Linked DNA regions of Homo sapiens: region 2 is linked to region 1. The links come from fine-mapping of genetic effects on gene expression. A gene starts in region 1. The other region holds a variant in brackets. All regions are shown on one strand. Distances are between the middles of the regions. Region 1 holds the start of C1D (C1D nuclear receptor corepressor). Region 2 overlaps C1D (C1D nuclear receptor corepressor).

Region 1 (8,339 bases):
TCTGGTTTGCCAGTATTTTATTGAGGATTTTTGCATCAATGTTCATCAGGGATATTGGTCTAAAATTCTCTTTTTTTGTTGTGTCTCTGCCAGGCTTTGGTATCAGGATGATGCTGGCCTCATAAAATGAATTAAGGAGGATTCCCTCTTTTTCTATTGATGGGAATACTTTCAGAAGGAATGGTACCAGCTCCTCTTTGTACCTCTGGTAGAATTCGGCTGTGAATCCGTCTGGTCCTGGACTTTTTTTGGTTGGCTATTAATTATTGCCTCAGTTTCAGAAACTGTTATTGGTCTATTCAGGGATTCAACTTCTTCCTGGTTTAGTCTTGGGAGGGTGTATGTGTCGAGGAATTTATCCATTTCTTCTAGATTTTCTAGTTTATTTGTGTAGAGGTGTTTATAGTATTCTCTGATGGTAGTTTGTATTTCTGTGGGATCGGTGGTGATATCCCCTTTATCATTTTTTACTGTGTCTATTTGATTATTCTCTCTTCTTTATTAGTCTTGCTAGTGGCCTATCAATTTGGTTGATCTTTTCAAAAACCAGCTCCTGGATTCATTGATTTTTTGAAGGGCTTTTTGTTTCTCTATCTCCTTCAGTTCTGCTCTGATCTTAGTTATTTCTTGCCTTCTGCTAGCTTTTGAATGTGTTTGCTCTTGCTTCTCTAGTTCTTTTAATTGTGATGTTAGGGTGTCAATTTTAGATCTTTCCTGCTTTCTCTTGTGGGCATTTAGTGCTATAAATTTCCCTCTACACACTGCTTTAAATGTGTCCCAGAGATTCTGGTATGTTGTGTCTTTGTTCTCATTGGTTTCAAACAACATCTTTATTTCTGCCTTCATTTTGTTATGTACCCAGTAGTCATTCAGGAGCAGGTTGTTCTGTTTCCATGTAGTTAAGCGGTTTTGAGTGAGTCTCTTAATCCTGAGTTCTAGTTTGATTGCACTGTGGCCTGAGAGACAGTTTGTTATAATTTCTGTTCTTTTACATTTGCTGAGGAGTACTTTACTTCTAAATATGTGGTCAATTTTGGAATAAGTGTGATGTGGTGCTGAGAAGAATGTATATTCTGTTAATTTGGGGTGGAGATTTCTGTAGATGTCTACTAGGTCTGCTTGGTGCAGAGCTGAGTTCAATTCCTGGATATCCTTGTTAACTTTCTGTCTCGTTGATCTGTCTAATATTGACAGTGGGGTGTTAAAGTCTCCCATTATTATTGTGTGGGAGTCTAAGTCTCTTTATAGGTCTCTAAGGGCTTGCTTTATGAATCTGGGTGCTCCTGTATTGGGTGCATGTATAGGTAGTATAGTTAGCTCTTCCTATTGAATTGATCCATTTACCATTATGTAATGGCCTTCTTTGTCTCTTTTGATCTTTGTTGGTTTAAAGTCTGGTTTATCAGAGATTAGGATTGCAACTCCTGCTTTTTTTTGTTTTCCATTTGCTTGGTAGATCGTCCTCCAGCCCTTTATTTTAGCCTATGTGTGTCTCTGAATGTGAGTTGGGTCTCCTGAATACAGCACACTGATGGGTCTTGACTCTTTATCCAATCTGCCAGTCTATGTCTTTTAATTGGAGCATTTAGCCCATTTACATTTCAGGTTAATATTGTTATGTGTGAATTTGATCCTGTCATTATGATGTTAGCTGGTTATTTCGCTCATTAGTTGATGCAGTTTCTTCCTAGCATTGATGGCCTTTACAATTGGCATGTTTTTGCAGTGGCTGGTACCAGTTGTTCCTTTCCATCTTTAGTGCTTCCTTCAGGAGTTCTTGTAAGGCAGGCCTGGTGGTGACAAAATCTCTCAGTATATTTGTCTGTAAAGGATTTTATTTCTCCTTCACTTATGAAGCTTAGTTTGGCTGGATATGATATTCTGGGTTGAAAATTCTTTTCTTTAAGAATGTTGAATATTGGCCCCCACTCTCTTCTGGCTTGTAGAGTTTCTGCCGAGAGATCAGCTGTTACTATGATGGGCTTCCCTTTGTGGGTAACCTGACCTTTCTGGCTGCCCTTAACATTTTTTCCTTCATTTCAACTTTGGTGAATCTGACAATTATGTGTCTTGGAGTTGCTCTTCTCGACGAGTATCTTTGTGGTGTTCTCTGTATTTCCTGAATTTGCATGTTGGCCAGCTTCACTAGGTTGGGGAAGTTCTCCTGGATGATATCCTGAAGAGTGTTTTCCAACTTGGTTCCATTCTCCCAGTCACTTTCAGGTACACAATTCAGATGCAGATTTGGTCTTTTCACAAAGTCTCATATTTCTTGGAGGCTTTGTTCATTTCTTTTTACTCTTTTTTCTCTAAACTTCTCTTCTTGCTTCATTTCATTCATTTGATCTTCAATCACTGATACTCTTTCTTCCACTTGATCAAATCGGCTACTGAAGCTTGTGCATGCGTCACGTTCTTCTCGTGCCACGATTTTCAGTTCCATCAGTCATTTAAGGACTTCTCTACACTGTTTATTCTAGTTAGCCATTCGTCTAATCTTTTTTCAAGGTTTTTAGCTTCTTTGCAATGGGTTCAAACATCCTCCTTTAGCTCGGAGAAGTTTGTTATTACCAGTCGTCTGAAGCTTTCTTCTCTCAATTTGTCAAAGTCATTCTCTGTCCAGGTTTGTTCCATTGCTGGTGAGGAGCTGCATTCCTTTGGAGGAGAAGAGGCGCTCTGATTTTTAGAATTTTCGGCTTTTCTGCTCTGATTTATCCCCATCTTTGTGGTTTTATCTACCTTTGGTCTTTGATGATGGTGACGTACAGATGGGTTTTTGGTGTGGATGTCTTTTCTTTTTGTTAGTTTTCCTTCTAACAGTCAGGACCCTCAGCTGCAGGTCTGTTGGAGTTTGCTGAAGGTCCACTCTAGACCCTGTTTGCCTGGGTGTCACCATCGGAGGCTGCAGAACAGCAAATATTGCAGAATGGCAAATATTGCTGCCTGATCCTTCCTCTGGAAGCTTCATCTCAGAGGGGCACCCAGCTGTATGAGGTGTCAGTTGGCCCCTGCTGGGAGGTGTCTCCCAGTTAGGCTACTCGGGGGTCAGGGACCCACTTGAGGAGACAGTCTGTCCGTTCTCAGATCTCAAACTCCGTGCTGGGAGAAGCACTACTCTCTTCAAAGCTGTCAGACGGACATTTAAGTCTGCAGAACTTTCTGCTGCCTTTTGTTCAGCTATGCCTTGCCCCCAGAGGTGGGGTCTACAGAGGCAGGCAGGCCTCCTTGAGCTGCGATGGGCTCCACCCAGTTCAAGCTTCCTGGCCACTTTGTTTATCTACTTAAGCCTCAGCAATGGCAGACGCCCCTCCCCCAGCCTCGCTGCTGCCTTGCAGTTTGATCTCAGACTGCTGTGGTAGCAGTGAGCCAGGCTCCGTGGGCGTGGGACCCTCTGAGCCAGTCACGGGATATAATCTTCTGGTGTGCCGTTTGCTAAGACCGTTGGAAAAGCACAGTATTAGGATGGGAGTGTCCCAATTTTCCAGGTACCGTCTATCATGGCTTCCCTTTGCTAAGAAAGGGAATTCCCTGATCCCTTGTGCTTCCCGGGTGAGGTCATGCCTCGCCCTGCTCTGTGGGCTGCACCCAGTGTCTGAGAAGCCCCAGTGAGATGAACCCGGTACCTCAGTTGGAAATGCAGAAATCACCCATCTTCTGCGTTGCTCATGCTGGGAGCTGTAGACTGGAGCTGTTCCTATTCGGCCACTTTGGAACCTCCCCCAAAACTTTAAATATTACATACATGGTGCTTGTTCAAAATGCTTTTACATGCATTTAATATACGGACAACTGTTTCATGCATAACTTTTTATCAAATTACAGCCGTGGAATGACAAGTTACAAATGTTAAGACAATGCTCAATCGCTTATACTACACTTTCAATGAACAGTATGTACAGTTTCTGTTAATGCCTTTATTTTCTATTATGTTTGTTCTGATTGCATACATTGAAATGCAATTTTACATTTATTTGAAACTAATAAAAAATTTGGGCTTGTATTTTGCACATATTTTCCCCATTTTTCTACTAATTCATTTTTACTGTATTTTATAGAAGTACCTTTTACTGACAGATTGGAAAAATAAAGAACCCATTCTTCCCCACGGATAATCTAATAAAGAACCTGTTCTTCCCCACGGATAATCTGGGAAGCTGCTCTAAGAGGCTCATCTAGAGGCAGACAATAAAAGGGTAGAAAGAATGAGGGCCCTGAAAAAAGCTTCTGGGAAAGTAAAAACCCGAACAAAGTTTCGATAACTAAGATTTTTTTCCTGGTTAAATACACTCAACCTGTATTTGGGGTGAGTGTTAGCCGGGTACAAAGGTAGACAAAAGTTCCGAGTGCCGCCGCAATCGTCTCCCACAACATGGGTCTGAGCTACTCAAAATGAGATTTGCCTTTGGAGAAGAGTTAAGGAGCAGGGGGCGTGGCGAGCAGCGTGAGATCATCGGGAAGCGCCGCTCGTGGCGGGGGCAGAGCCGGCGCGTCATTGTCGTCATCGTTGCCCGACCGCTTTCCGGGAGACTGGAGTCGAAGGCCGTGAGGTATTTTTCTAAGGTGTAGTTTCAGTTTTTCTCCTGCTCCTGTTTAACTCCGCTTTTCCTCTCCTGGGATTCCCCTGTCATCCTCTGGGCAGACTGAGAAAATCGGAGTTTGGCTGCGTAGCCTTCCAGGAATGCAGTCTCTCACAGCTCTTCGTTGGGGCAGCATTGTTGGCAGGTCCCCCACTTCCGCTTGTTTTGGGGCTGCTTGCAGGCTTTGGCTTACCCCGGCCCCTCATTTCTCTCTTTTGCTCCGGTCTCTCTCTTTTTCTTCGTTTGTTAACCACCCCCTTCTCAAATCTTGGAAGACGAAGAAATTAAAAACAAAAATCAAAAAACATTGAAGTCTTCACAATTTTCAGCTGTTTTCAATCTTGCTTAGGGAGAGAGGCTAAAGTGGAACGTCTAGGGGAGTAACTTTACTGTGTTAGCTCCGTTTATCATTCACATTCACAGACTGCCTGCTGCTGCAGTATTAGCTCATCTGAGATAGTGGGCTAATTTCGACCTTTAGCTGAAATCTGTAGTGGGTAATCCAAGAGAGCAGTTTTTCTTGATGACCCGGATAAGTTCAGTGTAACTCAAACTTGTTTCAAAATAGCTTTAATGTCCTCAATGTTTGCTGACTACAGTTCAGTTTTGGCTTGATAAAGATGTATTTGTCGCAATGAGATGTTTGCTATCCACTTATTAACCTATTAGGACTGTCTGATGGTGGACTGAACCAAGACTTAACCGTGATTTTTTAAAAAATTAAATTTAAAAATTTTGTGGGTACATAGGTGTATATATTTATGGGGTACACGAGATGTTTTGATACAGGCATGCAATATGTAAGAATCACATGGAAAATGGGGTATCCATCCCTTCAGGCACTTATCCTTTGTGTTACAAACAATCCAGTTATACTTTTAGTTATTTAACTCTGTATTTTTGATTCAAAAACAACAGATTAGCCCTATTGAAGTACAGAGAAATGTTTGTGTTTGGTGGAAATGATAGAACTCATTGTTTTGTTGAAAGATAGTGACAAGTGTGAATAACGGTTTTTCAAAATAAAATTCTCAGTCAAAAGATACTACAGCTGCCTTCAGTTAGCTGTGTTGTATGTATCACAGTTCAAAAGTAATGTAATTTTTTTCTTAACTGCTTTTACCTTTTCAAATGGCTCTTCATATGTATTATCTCAGCTACTGTTTCCAAAGTTGACCCTTCAAGCATGGCTCTAAATAGTTCACATTGGATTAGAGTATTTGGTAATTTTCACTTTTAGTAAAATACTATCTAATGTATTGAGTGCTAACTGAGCCAGGCCCCGTTCTAATGGCTTTTATCTAGTTTATTTAATCTGTGCAACAACACTATATACTCTTATTTCAGAAATAAGATAATTGTAATAATCAACTTCCATATGTTTTGGAAGGTAATTTTGCTGCTTGATTGCTGTAATTTTGGAAATGCTTTGAATTAAACTTTGAATAGAAGTGAATTTAATTTAATGTAATTGTTCATCTCAATCTTGAGCAATATCCTCGTAATTTATATACTCTCCTATTAGACTTTGGGATAAATTTATTTTTAGATGTTAATATATTTTTTAGAAAAGGAAGAAGTCTATATTTACTCAGGAATTGTACTGTGGGACTGAAGGAGAGTTACAGACAACACTAACATGGAGTCACTGTTTGCCCAAGACAGCAATATTTATTGAGAACTTGTGTGTACATTTCATTGTTATTTTCTCCTAAGATAATGCAGTGCGAAAAAGTCATTACAGTAATTCATTACAGTAATAGAATTCTGGTGCAACAACAGCAAATGGCTCTCAAATTCCAAAAAACAATCATGTTGGATTTGTTCTTTGGCTTAGTTCATAACTGTGTATAATTATTTGGTGTAGAGATGGGAAGAGCCCTGGAATGTACATTATCGTATGTTTGTTTGGATCCATGTGGTGACTTTCTAGTATCTGTAAGCTCAAACTGTAATCTGATATTAAGAGTTTCCAAAATTACGTCTTAGGTTACTTTGATTGGTTTTAGTTAGTAAACAAATAGTTGCTAACTAACTAATACATGACAAGACATTATGTTAGTGATGTGGAGTTCAAAATGTGCCTCGACATGAATCTTCCCTTGAGCAATAGCCCAGTGAGTAAATAACCAATGGAAAGGTAGGAGGAGAGGAGTGACATGATCTGACTTAGGTTTGTTTTATTTTATTTTATTTTACTTTATTGTCTTTTGTTTTCTTTTGTTTCCTTTCCTGCCCTGCTCTGCCCTTGCCCGCCCTGCCCCACCCCATCTCGCCCCTCTTTTCTTTTGGAGTCTCACTCTGTTGCTCAGGCTGGAGTGCAGTGGCACAATCTCGGCTCACTGCAACCTCCGCCTCCTGGGTTCCAACGATTCTCCTGCCTCAGCCTCCGGAGTAGCTGGGATTACAGGCACCCGTCGCCATGCCCAGCTAATTTTTTGTGTTTTTAGTAGAGTTAGGGTTTCACCATGTTGGCCAGGCTGGTCTCGAACCCCTGACCTCAGGTGATCCGCCTGTCTCAGCCTTCTAAAGTGCTGGGATTACAGGCGTCAGTCACTGCGCCCAGCCTGACTCACGTTTTAATAGAATCTTCTCTGGCTGCTGTGTTTAAGAATAGTTTGCTGTGGGGTGGGGTAGGTGAAAACCAGGAGACTAATCACGGAGGTGTTGTAGTTCAGATGAGATGATAACATCTTAACTGGCTGGAAAGAAGTGAAGGTGGAGAAGCAGTTTAATTTTAGATGTATTTTCTAGGAAAAGCAAACAGAATTGCTTACAGATTGAAAGTGAATTGTAAGAATAAGGTTATTGTCAAAGTTTGGGGCTTGAGCAACTAGAAGAAGGGAATTGCCATTAACTGAGAAGTAGAAAACTGTGGGAGGGGCAGGTTTGTGGGAAGATTCGGAGTTCAGTTAAGGACATGATAAGTTTTTGATGTCTGTTAGTCATCTAAGTGGAGATGTTGAGTAGGCAGTTGAATATGTTCATTCTGGACTTCAGAGTGGTCATTGCTGGAAACAGACGTTTGGGAATTGTCAGTGAACAGATGGTATTTAAAGTTGTGAGACCGGAGACAGTCGTTAAAGGAGTAAATGTAGACAGAAAAGAGAAGGGGCACAAGGCCTGAGTCCTTAGGCATTTTAACAAGTTGGGAAAATGAGGAATAACCACCAAATGAGACAGACTGAGCAGCCAGTGAGGGACAAGGACAATTTTGAGTCTGGTGTTGTAGAATTTACAGTAGAGTAGTATGTTCAGTTTTGTCAGGTGCAGCTGATGGATCAGGTGAAATGAAGATTGACACCTTTGGATTTATCAAGAACTTAAGGAGTGTTATTGATAGATATGTGATAATGTTAAGTCAAGCAGATAGTTGCACACCAGTGTGATAACTGTATTACAGTTATATTCAGAGAACCTTGGGAGCAGAGGAAGAAGAGACCACTTTTGTTTGGGAGGTATGGACACCTTTATAGAGGAGGGAGCATTTGAGGTGGGTTTTAAAGGATTGATAAGTTTCACTAGGCCAAGAAAATGGAGACTGTTATGAAGAGGAGGTTGATATGATTTGGGTATGTGTCTCCTCCAAATCTCTTGTTGAAATGTCACTTCCAGTGTTGGAGGTAGGCCTAGTGGGAGATATTTGGGTCATGGAGGCAGATTGAATGTCTTGGTTTGTCCTTGAGGTAATGAGTTGAGTTCTCACTCTATTAGTTCACTCCTAGAGCCGGTTGTTTAAAAGAACATGGAAGCTCCTCTTTC
Region 2 (8,339 bases), 21 kb after region 1:
TTTTTAAATCTAGATGCCAGTGAGCCACACATAGATTTAGTATTACATGGAAATTGAATAATTTAAAGTTTAATTGTTTGTAGGACTTTCCTTTTTTGTGAATAACTAGTTTCTTTAATTGGAATGTTTTAAATTAATACATTCACCATTTTATTCCATGAAATTTTTCTCTTGTAGTTTATTTGGCAACCCAAGGAGTTAATCCTAAGGAACATCCAGTAAAACAGGAATTGGTAAGATTTTAATTTCTTTTTATTTTATGTGTTTGTTGTTGTATTCCTGAGGTTTGTCACACTACCTTTGTCACACAAATTAGGGAGAACAGAATTCGAGTTGAAATTATGAAAGTGAGCCAGACCTTATTATCTTTGGGTTTTTTTTTCTCTTACCTTTTTCAGATAATTGGTATTCCATATATTATATAAATCTCGGAATGGGAAAATGTTACGATTCTAGTAATTATTTATAACTTACATATTATTTTTCTTATAAATTCTTGAAATCCTGTTTATCTCTAGAACTACTTTTTTTTTTAAACTTCTGTACAGTTCTTAAAAGTATATTCTAGTTGATTTACTAGCAAAGACGGGAAAGTTTCTCCCTCCCACCTTTTCAATTCCTCCATTAATTCATTTTCTCAGCAGTAAAGAATCCAGTTCAGCAACAAAGCTAAAAGCTTTTTTGGCACCAGCTGTATGTGTACTGTCCAGTAATTCTGCATTAGACATATTTACAACCTGTAATAAATCTTCTAGGTTTGTCTTTGTATTCCATTTAGATGTATAAGTACAGTATATAAGGTCTGGTATCTTGGAGTTTTTGCTGACTTCAAAAATTAAATCAAATCATTCAATTTGAAGAGAAAAATTAGAAATCAAACTTATGGTTACCTTCTTGACTTGGTTTTATGAATAAGAATATTAATAAATTGATTCTTTGTGTTTATAAAATATAAGGCAAATATAGATATGAAATACACTTGACATTGTATTCTTGTTCTCAAGTTTTAGGGTAGTTGATATGTATGTTATTTACAGCTTAGTAAAGCACTTGGTCCTTTACTTTTTAAAAATGAGTAAGCCAGATCTGTTGTCTTCAGTTTTTCAACATGTAGTCTAAGACATTTCCTTATTTTGAAGTTCTTGGGGGGGAAAATAAATTTATTTTTAAATAAAACAATTGTGAAAAATATTTAAAGCAAAAGTATAAAGCAATATGATATGCAGGTCTTGGTTTGACCAGTGATACGGCTTTAAACCTTTAAAATGATGGCTTGTATCATCTGTTTTCAACTTCCTAATATAGACTTTGCATACAATTTCTCTTTTTTCCATTAACATGAAGTTATTTGGAATACTTGATACTGTCTTTGTGAAAGGACAAGGTCATTTGTTTTCTTTCTACCTCAGAATCTACTTTTGAAGTAGTACATTAATATTCTAGATAAGGGTTGGTGAATAAAAAGCATGCATAAACCTCTTCCCCTTTTCTTTTTCTTTTTTTTTCTTTTTTTGAGATGGAGTCTTGCTCTGTCGCCCAGGCTGGAGTGCAGTGTCGTGATCTTGGCTCACTGCAAGCTCCACCTCCCGGGTTCACACCATTCTCCTGCCTCAGCCTCTCGAGTAGCTGGAATTACAGGCGCCTGCCACCACGCCCAGCTAATTTTTTGTATTTTCAGTAGAGACGGGGTTTCACCATGTTAGCCAGGATGGTCTCGATCTCCTGACCTCGTGATCTGCCCGCCTCGGCCTCCCGAAGTGCTGGGATTACAGAGCCTGTTCCCCTTTTCTGACCTTGCGTAGATGTTACTAATTGATCACAGACTTAGTGTATGATAGGAAACTTATTTGCCGTATGTATCACAAATGGGAAAAGTCAGTTTACTCATTCAACAGATATTTGAGTGCTTACTGGGAGCTAGGCATTATTTCCAAGTGAGAGATGATTCCTCTGTGAGTAATGCTGATCCCTGCCCTTGTGGCAGACACCAGACTGTATCTAATGGAGGGAGACAAATAATAAAGTAAACAAATAAGAAATATATATGAATATGTAGTATGTTGGAAAGTTATGGGAACAAAGAAAAAGAGTAGGGTAAGGGGGACTGGAGTGCTTGGATAGGACTGCAGTTTTAAATGCTGAAGTCAGGGCCTCAATGACAAGGTTAACATTTGAGTAGACTGGAAGGAAGAGAGGAAGTGGCCGTATGGGTAATTGAGGAAATATCCTTCTAGGCAGAGGAATAAGCAGGGCAAAGACCCCAAGGCAGGTTGGTGTGTGTGTGCTGTAGCTAGTATCCACCATCATAAGCACTGTGCTTTTTTATTCAGACAGAAATGGGACGTCACTAGAGAGTGTGGAGCAGAGTTGCCAGTCTTTCACAATGAAAACATTTTAAGATTCTGCATTAACTATGTTGATTATTTTAATAAAGCTTGTTTTTAAGCAGTGATCAGTCTTTTACTCTGCTGTTTTATGGCTGTCATCAACTTTATTTCTTCATTTGAAGCGTAAGATAGCCATTTATGCTGATTAATTGTCTCAGAAGATTCACAGTGGTACAGCAACATATTATGTTTCTCACCCTGTAAAGTCTGATTAGAACTGTATATTTTATTAGAAAATTTCATGTACTTACCAAAATTATAAAATTGAATAATTTGTATTTTCATTCTCCCTAATTGTTACACTAGATGGTAATGTGAAAAGATAGTTAAGTACTACCTCATGTATTTCCTGTTTAGAAAAATTTCAGGAGAATTTAGTTTGTATTTTGCAAGTATATGAAAGCTCCGGTTTTTTACTTTAGATACAAAACAGTTAATATGTAGATTTATGTTAATGGTGTTTTTCAAAAATGTATAACCACCTAGAAACTTTCAATTCGATGTTTATTTCTGGAGTAATGTCTTAGTGTGATTCTAACTCTTTGGAAACAGAAGACTTCTGAAATGACTTTTTAACATCTGTCTTTCCCCACCCTCCGACTATGAACTCCAGGCAAGCAGGGAGCGTATTTATCCTATTCATTTGCATTTCCTAGCACCATGCACTTTAATAGGCAATAAATACATATATGTTGAATTTAACCAAGGTGTACAGTATAATAAAATTCAGTGGTGGCGAATAGCTTAGTAAATCTATTGCCTTTGTTTTTTATCTTTAAGGAAAGAATCAGAGTATATATGAACAGAGTCAAGGAAATAACAGACAAGAAAAAGGCTGGCAAGCTGGACAGAGGTGCAGCTTCAAGATTTGTAAAAAATGCCCTCTGGGAACCAAAA[T/C]CGAAAAATGCATCAAAAGTTGCCAATAAAGGAAAAAGTAAAAGTTAACTTTTTGGTTTTGATGTACACATATTCAAAAAGTACATCTTCCCCCCCCCCCCCCCCCCCGCAAAATAATTCTGTGGCAGGGCAAGGTTTAAATGTGTTTCTTATTAATATGTAAATTCACAGTAAATATGTAAAGCTAAATACTTTCCTCTCCAAAGATCATTATCTTTATTGATTAGCACTGAGGATTTTAACATTGTGATATATTATATATTTATAATTTACCATCTCTTGATGAGACTCTTATTTCTTTATATAGGTCAGTCTTGCAAGTACCATTTTATAAGCAGCTGTGAAATTTAAGTGAAATGTTCTTTGTAAACATTTGTACTATTTTAAATGAATAATGACCTTATGAAGTATGCTATCTGTAGGCTGAAATTATAGGTACATCTGTTTTCACTATATGATATTAAGAAAGCGTGAAATGACTTAAATGTTCATTTTTTTCTGTATAGATACTTTATCATGTTTTCATGATTTTAGGAATTACTGCTTTGTTGATATTCAAAGTGTGAAACTAAAACTTTATGGTTGTACTTTAATTCTTGGCATGTTGCCTCTATGTCCCATTTAAAATAAAATACATTCTCATTAACTTTAGATGGGAAATAAGGTTGTATGTTGATGGATGAATTTTGGCATGATGACTGTACTCTCAATAAAGGCTGAAAATGTTGTATAACTGACCTGTGTATTTTTATCTTTTGAGTAAATTTGCCTTCCAAATTAGGAAGATAGGTTTTAGAAGTCATCACAAATAGAGAAATTCTTGAGTTTTTGTTCCTGATGCATGGTGTCCACAGTTCTTTTCATCTCATTTTTTTTCAGATTTTTTTTATTTCATGTTTTTGAGGCTGTATCAAGTACATACAAGTGTTTTGGAACAACTTCTTAAGTTACCTAATGCCACTTAAGCAGATGAGAAGTCCAAAGGAGATTACACTGTGTTTGTATTGTGGTTTATTTTTCTGGAATATTAGTTACAGAGAGTACTACATAGTAAACCTTTTTTTAAATGTCTAAGCCCATGAATTTTAATTATATGCCCTTAATGCTTTCAGTGTTTGAATCCATATCATTATGTGTAGGAATGCCAAGTATAGTAAAGTACTTTAATTTTTGAAAAAGGAGTTGTTAAAATTTTCTGTGTGATTAATTCTCCATAAGTAACCTTGAATAAATGGATTTCTTGATTTATGATAGCAGATATTGGAAATGGTCTTAAAATGTAATGGATTTTGTAAAGCATGTTGAACTCTTTCTATGACACATGAAGAGGAAGTCACTGATAGACGCAGAAGGTCTTTTCTGTCTCTGATGTCAGTTTTTGAAGTGGAAGAACATTAGTGAACATTTATAGTTATTTTACTCCTTTTTTTGCCTTTGTCTCCAAATTTCTAGCTATTTTTAAAAATAACCTCTTCATGAGAGAAATGTGTTACTGTTAAGATCAAGTGTAGTGTACCTGTCTTTGTGTTATTTATTGCAAAGAAATTTATTTGGATTTCTGTATATTTTCTAATTTCATAAAAGAAAAACAGCTTAAATGAAAAATGTTATACAATTGCAGAAAATCATTATTGGTTTTAGCTAAGTTATTGGTTTATGAAAGTGCACCTCTACGTTCTGTTAAATTGTGTAACTTTTAAGTGAGTAATTCTTTCATTATTAGGTAGAAATAAAAGTTTGAGTATATTCCATTTTATTATGTATAATTTTAAATACTTAGCACGTAATAAGGAGCTGAATGGCTGTAGTGCATTGGGTTGCTTATTTGCTTGTTGTTTGTTTATTCTTTTGACAAATATACTTAATGACATTTATATTGCCAGATACAGTGCTAGGTGCAACGTTCCAAAGACGATAACTACGGCCTTTATCCTATCTTTATAAGGTGTTAAGAAAAAAATAGTCTTTTTATTCAATTCAGTTTCTCAGAGTTATGGGAAAATTTATGACAAATTGTGCTCATTAACCTTATTCAGAACCATAAAGGGTGATGTGTGTGGTTGATCTATTTGACTATGGTGCAGTTCTTGTTAAAATAGTTTGTTCCACATGATAGTCTGCTCTAAGTTTAGATGTTAATTACATCTTTTATTAATCTCTTTGGGAATTAACAAGTTGGAGAAGTTGCATCTATAGATATTTTTAAGATTAGAATTATAGTCTATTAATCTTGTACTAAATAATGAGATCTTGCATTTTAATATTATTTTAAGTACAAATTTTTTCTTGTTCATAGTTGTAAGGTGGGAAATCCTTTTAGTAAAACAGAATATGTTGAGTGAAAAATTGAAGCTTGAATTATGTTACATTCCTGGAATTAGGAAGTTATGTCAGGTTGATTAGTTTTAAGATACCCTGTAGATTAAAAAATCCTTCTACTTAGCAATTAGAAATGGATTGGCATTATTTCTAAATAAGGTATTTAAAATTGACCAGAAGTGTAGGAAAGACTTCAAAAATGGACAGCGTATTGAATGTAAATACTTTTTTCTTAAGTAGGTCACTGGAGAAAAAGATACTTTAGGAATCACTCAGTTTATCATACAGTTAAATTATAATTTTATTCAATAAGTTACCAGAAATTCTGGCTTTGCAAAGTGACATTAACTAAGAAAGATGTGAACAGTGACTCAGCCTCATGTAATAGCTAAATTTGGTATCTAAAGGGAAGAAAAAGCACTGATGTCTCATTTTCTCCCTTCATAGCATAGTTAGAAAACCTGCTCAGATAAATTCAGTGGCTCTTTTCCTGAATGATCTTGGTAGCAACGTATTTTATATCAATGTGACGTGAACATAATTTACAAATATAAACATCTATCTTTCCCTATATTCTGATCTAAAACTCTCCAGTTTTGGAAATACAAGCCATATTTTGTTCATATATTAGCATTTTATAGTTGTCATTAACAACTATGTTGGCAGAAAGTATACAGGATTTTATAATGGAATTCTGTAGATTTGTTTCATTTGAATAATTTGCTATTATATTACCTGTTAGCGGGCTTTCAAGAAAATGATTTGAATGTTTTTTGGTTTGCATATTCATTTTCCTATCAAAGTGGGTGTACAGCCATAGACTACTCTTTAGAATAGCCACCCTCTGACTTGATGTGCCTTTTTAAAGTGCTTATTTATGGCATAACTTTTTATTATTCCCTCAAGAAGTCTGAGATTATGGCATAATTTTTAACACAGCCAGAAAGATTAGTAAAGTGTTCAGAAAAGAGAGAGCTATAGTGATAGCTATTGGCAATTGAGGTTTAATTTTTAACTTTATATCTCCCAACTCCCTGCCCAGCTAGAAACCTAAAGCCACCAGCTCTGTGTTAGTCATCTGTTCTTAAAAGGTTGAAACGAGATGCTGGTTTTTACTCCCTCTCCCCACAATTAGCCTTGAAGTTTAGCAAATCTATCATAGCAGAATAACTGTATGCAAGATGTCAGTTTTGTAAAGTGATATATTTCAGACAGTATACAAAATTTGATGGGGGAAAAATAAGCTTTTATAAATGAAACATTTAAGAGACTCTTTTATTATTTGCTTTTCAGTTTAGTGTTGCCTTTAAGGTGTACCATTTCAGTTTGGCAGCTGCAATAAATGAAGAAAATTGAAGATGATAATTCAGCATTTCAAGATGCTTCTGCTGAAATGAATGTAGACCTATCCAGAGCTTGAATTTCAAGCTTACAGTAATACAATATTTTAAAGCCAAGTACCCAGGCAATTCATAGTGATATGATTTGAATGAGATTATTAGGAGGAAGAGAAAGAATGCCTTCAATTTCTTGTTATGTAGGTATTATCTATTGAGATGCTATGTTGAAAAATGTTATTGTAAAAAGAATAGAAGCTTGTTATACCCACTTTGTTATAGAGTACAATTTGTCTTGGACCTTACACAAAAAACTTTAGTTATTAAAATAGCAAAATTAGAATCACCTCTGATTTAGTGCTAGAGCATTGGATTGCCTATAGACCATGTTCTAATGTGTGTCTGGTATTTTTTTTCATTTGATGGCCTTTAATCTCACTAATAATGCATTCCTTACTTAAACAAATAATTTGCTTCCCTAGTTTTGATACTTTATTATTTTTCCCTTAAGAAAGAGATAATTATTTAAAAGTTGCTGGATTTTGTGGGTTTTGACATTTGTGACTTTTAACACTTGTGATTTTTACTATTTGTGAGTGACTTTTAGAGGTCCATGGAGTATAGAGTTATTTTGTAATTTTGCCAAGACATAATCTTAATTCCTGCTAAATTCCATGCAGGAAGGCATTATTCAGCTAATGATTTAGCTTGGCTAACCTCTTAGCATCCACAGTTTTTTTTTTCCCTCACTTGCAGTCTCATTCATTTATTCACTCATTCATTCAACAAATATTTATTGAACTCCTGTGTACCATGTTCTGTTTTAGGCATAGGAGATTCAGCAGTTATCCAAACATGGTTGTAGTGGTTGGGAGCTGTCAAACTTTTTATCATGTGATAAATGGCTTCTATGGCGTGAATTATGTTCCCCTAAAATTCATACATGGAAGTCCTACACCTCAATACCTCTTAATGTATCCTTATTTAGAAATAAGGCCATAGTAGATGTAATTCATTAGGGTGGATCTTAATCCAATATGCCTTTATAAAACCGGGAAATTGGGACACAACATGCACACAGGGAGAACACCTGTGAAGATTAAGGCAGAGTTTGGGATTATGCTTCTGTAAGCCAGGGAATACCAAAGATTGCCAGCAACCACCAGAAGCTAGGTGAGAGGCCTGGAACAGATTCTCATAATCCTCGGAAGGAACCAACTTTGCTGATCCTGTGACTTTGGACTGCTAGCCTTCAGAACTGCCAGACAGCACATTTCTGTTGTGTAAGCCACCCAGTTATTGATACTTTGTTATGGCAGCCCTAGGAAACACACACAATGGCCATTATTGAGTGGACACGATTGAGAAGATTAATAACTTGGATGTGAAAATGTGTGTA

Evidence for each region.
Region 2: its variant is fine-mapped to the expression of C1D in whole blood (TOPMed, PIP above 0.99).

Annotation. Positions count from the first base shown.
Region 1 is chr2:68,059,166-68,067,504 of GRCh38, reverse strand. It overlaps C1D (C1D nuclear receptor corepressor), which reads left to right and starts at 4,501. Exons shown (of 5, transcript NM_173177.3): 1 at 4,501-4,547. RefSeq lists enhancers at 4,150-4,650, 4,403-4,812, 3,734-4,933.
Region 2 is chr2:68,037,882-68,046,220 of GRCh38, reverse strand. It overlaps C1D (C1D nuclear receptor corepressor), which reads left to right. Exons shown (of 5, transcript NM_173177.3): 4 at 178-233; 5 at 3,168-5,091. The coding sequence ends at 3,332. Among named protein-coding and RNA genes, the nearest start is that of C1D, 21 kb to the left of the region's middle. The variant T/C (reference allele first, on the strand shown) is at 3,285.